2 separate regions of the Homo sapiens genome follow, and region 2 is linked to region 1. Evidence: fine-mapped expression QTL. Tissue or cell type: whole blood. Region 1 holds a variant in brackets; the other region holds the start of a gene. All regions are shown on one strand. Distances are from middle to middle.

Evidence for each region. PIP is the estimated chance that this variant, and not a neighbour inherited with it, causes the effect.
Region 2: MNDA starts here. The variant in region 1 is fine-mapped to the expression of MNDA in whole blood (TOPMed, PIP above 0.99).

The regions. Positions count from the first base shown.
Region 1 is chr1:158,800,733-158,803,426 of GRCh38, reverse strand. It overlaps a transcript of OR6N1 not described here. Among named protein-coding and RNA genes, the nearest start is that of OR6N2, 21 kb to the right of the region's middle. The variant G/T (reference allele first, on the strand shown) is at 1,238.
Region 2 is chr1:158,830,238-158,832,931 of GRCh38, reverse strand. It overlaps MNDA (myeloid cell nuclear differentiation antigen), which reads right to left and starts at 1,581. Exons shown (of 7, transcript NM_002432.3): 1 at 1,375-1,581. It also overlaps a transcript of OR6N1 not described here.

The DNA.
Region 1 (2,694 bases):
GCTTGAGACTGTGGGAGATGCAGTAATTTAGTGAAGGATAGTTTCAACTATCCATCTTTGTGAAAGGTTAGGTATTTCAGAGTAAGTGGGACATAAGCTAAATGCTGATTAAGGTTGAATGAGACCCTCATATTGTCCAAAAATTTGAGAGACTCTTTCAATCCCAAAGTCACATTAGTACTCTCAGAAACAAATATCTTCCTTTCCTTTGGCTCAGAAACTTTCCGTCTCCTACAGGAAAGCTTTTCCAATTTGAACTCAGAACACTTAGTATTTTTCTTCCGTTTAATATGATTTACTTGTTAATCTTTTTATGGTTACCTCCGTATCTTAAATTTAATATAGCAACTGCTTTCTTTCCACCTGATTCTGAAAAATAAAAGTACATTTGGGGCTATGAATGATTCAAATACCTTACTTCTGATAGATAAATGCTGTAATTCCATTATTCATCTGGACTCCATATCCATCTAAGTACATGCCCACAGAGAACACACAGCTGAGATAAGAGTTCAGATGTCAAGATTAGGATGTTGATGAACATATTGAGGATATGGATATAAGTAAAAGTAATAATGAAAAAGTAGATTAGTCTCATGAAGATGCCTGGGTAATAATAATGGTAGTGATAATGTAAGTAATGGTAATAATACTGGTGATGGAGACTTAGACAAGTGTATTAGGTATTCAACATCAATCATTTGGAACAATGGCTAAAGATAGCTGACATGGCAAAGGGAGGGACAGTGGTGAGAGTAACAAAGGTAGAGATGGTAAGCGCAAAAGTGATAGTGGTGCCTGTGCTGTGATAATATGGTGATGTGGTGAGGTTAGTAGGGATGGATGAGAAATCTCCTTGCAAAAAAAGCTTTTAAGATGAAACTCACCTCTGGGGTGCTAAAGATGTGATTCTTCATGTATTCAAGTTGGATTGTCTCTTCTCATGAAAAGCTATGACGGGGAGGCCAAGGCGGGTGGATCACGAGGTCAGGAGAGCGAGACCATCTTGGCTAAAATGGTGAAACCCTGTCTCTACTAAAAAATACAAAAAATTAGCTGGGTGTGGTGGCACATGCCTGTTGTCCCAGCTACTTGGGAGGCTGAGGCAGGAGAATCGCTTGAACCTGGAAGGCAGAGGTTGCAGTGAGCCGAGATCGCTCCACTGCACTCCAGCCTGGGTGACAGAGCAAGACTCCGTTTCAAAAAAAAAAAAAAAAAAAAAAAAAAGTGCTATGAG[G/T]GACTTGCAGAACTTCTAGAGTCCCAGAAGAGGCAGTGTCCCTGGGATTGGATTCTAGAGCCAGTGAGGGTTGCAGAAAAGCCATTTGAAAGAGAGTAGGGCTGCTTTACTTCTCTGTGTCCAACTTCCTACCCCAGAGGAGCACTTACAAAAAACTTTACACACTTAGCAACTCCAGAGAACATATAGCAAGGAGCCCCTGGGAGGTCAGCATTTCCAGGAACATGAAATATAAGTAGGGGAGTGTCTTGGGGTAGAAAAGATGCAGAGGAGGATGTTGTAAATTCTAATGTCATCAAAACCATCAGGTAATGGGCAGGGGTGGTACAGAAAAGATTAGAGTATCTAAAAAAGAGAACTAGGTAAAGGCTTTGATCTTTCCCAGATAAGGACTATTAGAATATGGAAAGAAAACTCCAGGGACATTGATATAGACCACCCAACTCCATATCCACCCTAGAAACATTTTTCAATGGCTTTAGAGATCCACAGACTACCAGGGTGGTGAGGGGCTTTATACAACATTTATATAGAGAAGGGGAAGTTGAAGTAAAGAAAGGAGAAATGGTTAAGCCCAATGTTCATTTTGAGTTAGTGGCAAAACAAGTTTACAAAGTCAATTTAGAAATAGAATGCTTTTTCTGTTGCGCTACAGCCCTTCTAGACCAACAATATAGGGGCCTTAGCTTACCAATTCCTCTCTCTCCTCATTCCCTTTGAGAATTCCTGATGCATGTCTCCCTTAGGAATCCTTCTTTAAAATGTACTTTGTCTGTTCATTGATTCTTCATGTAACCCTGCAGTTCTGACTTTGACAGATGGGACATTTCTTTAGGGACTAGATGGATACTTTTCTGTCTCTCCTGTTTTCTGGCAAGGTGGGTGGGAAAAAAACCCCGGCATTTAACAATTTTGTTTTAAGGAGCCAACCCACTCTCTCTCTCCCCACCGCCACCCCCACCTTTTTCTCTTCTTCACATACACACACAGACAGACCACACACACACACACACACACACACACACCAGTATGTGCAGCAACATACTGACTAACACCAAGAAACAGACTTTTTTTCATTTTGTTCTATGTACTTTTGTGATGATGGGAGGTCATGAAAAGTGGTGGGAAGGAGTGCATGGATTGGTGAGAAGTGAATGAGCAAAACAAAAGAAAGTCTCATGGAAGTGTAGAAGTGTATTGTGATCTCTTCTCATGCCTTAGACTTTAGAATGCTAACTGGGCACCCAGTTGCTACTTCTCTGAAGGTTCTCTGAAGACCAAGCGTGGAACTGTAGGATCCTACTAGGAGATTCCCTGTCTGAGGATAACATAGCCATAGCTTATTGAAGATACAAAAAGAAAACTTATTTTTGAAATAAAAACTCTCTGGACAACCTTTTAAAATTTCTTTTTAGTGATAGCGTAAGTTTTGGGTTTCCTGTTTTTGAAAAATGATG
Region 2 (2,694 bases), 30 kb before region 1:
AGATGGCAAAACCAAGTTAAAATATATACCTTTATAGAATTTGCATATCTGGACTAAACTCATCAACTAGGAGGAAAAATTTTCAATTTGGATTAAAAATAAATCCAGTCATATGTTGTTGACAAAGTACAAATAAAGCATAAGTTCACTTAAGTTTGAGAAAGAGCTGGAAAAGTTATATTCTTCAAACTCTAACTTAAAGAAAGACTTTTTAGGAAAAATAGTGTAGCTTAAAATAGGCTTAAGTCAATAAGTATCAGTACATAGTTTCACTACATAATGGTAAAGTATGCAACTTGGAAAAAGATATAATAATTTAAATTATATTATAAATATAATCTGTTATTACTTTATAAAGTAGCATATAGAAGTTTTTTCTTCTCTCTAAACACACACATAACATATATACTTAGATATACATATTCTATGTAAAAATATATGGTAGAAATCAAAAGAACTACAATGAGAAATTAACAAAATCACTATTAGAGTTGGAGATTTCACCACATCTCTCAGTTACTGAAAGAACAAGGTAAAAAATAGCTTAGATTTAGATTTAGATTTTTCAAACATAATTAACAAGCTTACTTAAGAAACTTTATCTTACTTAAATAGAATTTGGAATCCAACGTTTATAAACTCTTCTCAAGTACTCATGGAGTAATTAGAAAACATTCATATGTACAAAGCCATAAAAAAGTCAAAATGTATCCCAAAGTAGGAAATATATAATTGATTCTCCCTGTCTTTTCATTATACCTTGCCACAAAAAATGTTATCTATGACTGAGTAAAGCATAGACCATTTGAAAAAGAGAATTATTTCTTCTTACACTTGTTGTAAAATGAAGCATAAAATGAAACTGATTCATGAAAATGTAAAGATTATTTTTGAGTAAATGCTTGTAAAATTGAGAAATTAATGTGTGCACATGTCTATGCTTTTTAAAATAGAGATAAAATCATATAATAGAGATTTATATCCTGGTTTATTTTTTACTAAATATTACTTCATAATAATTTTCTTATCTGACTGTCTTGTCTTTTAACTTAGGCCCAAACCCAGTCACCAAGTCATCCTCCAGCCAAGAAAACCAAGTATCTCCTCTAAATATCAATTTATGCCAAAAGACACCCAAGAATTAATTTTTAAAACCTGCTGTAGACAAAATACATTTTTTTGGTTCATACCCCAATTGTGGTAGAATAAAAGATATCCATTTGCTACCTAGACAGTTAAAGCATTCAGTTCTCAGTTTTCTGAATATGATTGATAACAACACTTCTGGTCTCAGGCAATTATTCTCTACTGAGATGGTGTGGTTACCAACTAGATACCTAGATCTTTCTCTAAAGAACTTCCCAGAAATCTCACCTTAATGGATGCTTCTTCCACAATAGTCTTCAGAAATCCTGGAGTCACTGTCTTGTTTAGGACAGAATCACTGTCCGTAAAGCTTTGGAGAGATTAAACTGCAGACTATTTTAATCTTGTAAAGGGCTGAGAAATGAAAGCTAACAAGGAAAAATGGCACTTGTTAGAGCCACTCTCAATCTTGATTGTAGATGGCCTTCTTACACTGTCCTAATTCCTAACTAGAAAGAAGTTATGTAATCATGAAACAATTTTGAAGCCACGCCTATCAGCCTTTGTAGCTTTCTATTTCAGATGTCAGAGAAAGTGGTCAGTTCCTCTTTGTAGTAAGTAATCTCAGTCACAAGGAGAAATGACAGTAAATGGTGCCTCTTCTTCGCTTTTTTGACTTACAAATACTTGCTGAAAGGAGTTTCAAACTCAGAACTTTCTTATAAAGCTAACTTACATATAGGTCATTAGAAACCGGTAGCCGCTTGAATAAGGATCTTAATATAAATTGGGAAAGGCAAAACACCAAAGTTTCTCCCTCCTTTCCTGTTCACAGAGTGGCAGGAGCAGGAGATCTTGGTAGAGATGTCTATTGCTACCAGAACTTGACTTCATCTCTTGGATAGGGGTGGGTCTACTGTGAAATTGTTTTTGTTTAAATAGTACCTACATATTCACCCAGTTATTAATAACTGATACACCTGGAGCTTGACAGAGGCAGAAAGTCATTATGAATATGTAAATCCTTATTCAAATAATTTGAAAGAGTTTCATACTAGTTGCTCTCTTGAGTATAATAACTGAGCTGCCTTACCTTGATTATTAAATTCATGATTACTCATGCTTTTTGCATTATTTATGGATAGTTGGTTCATATCATGACTGAAACCTTGAACATTCTGGAACAGCACTGAAACTCTGGAATGATAGGGGGCCTGATAAACCCTTTGTACTGCAATTTTTTTTTCCTGTGAAGAACAGTGGGTGCACTACAAAGTATCATAACTCTGAATTGTCAAATGAATGGTATCAGTTAGCAGACAGTGCTGTGGTTACCAACTAGCTGATCTGTAAGCAAAATGTGGTCATGACTGGAAAAGGATCCCAAAACAGCTAATAGGGGAAAATGATCCAAGGCCATCTACAGAGAAGAATAAAGCTGATTGTCTTAATCCAAACCAGCAGCATAGAGAGAGTTAAAGTTTGGATTTGGAAACTGTCTAAACCCCACTAAAGCAGGGTAAATCAGAAAAAACCAAGAGGATCTAGAATGACAGCCACTAACACATGTGGGTGTTCATTGTTTCAGTTTCTCTCTTATGCTGATGC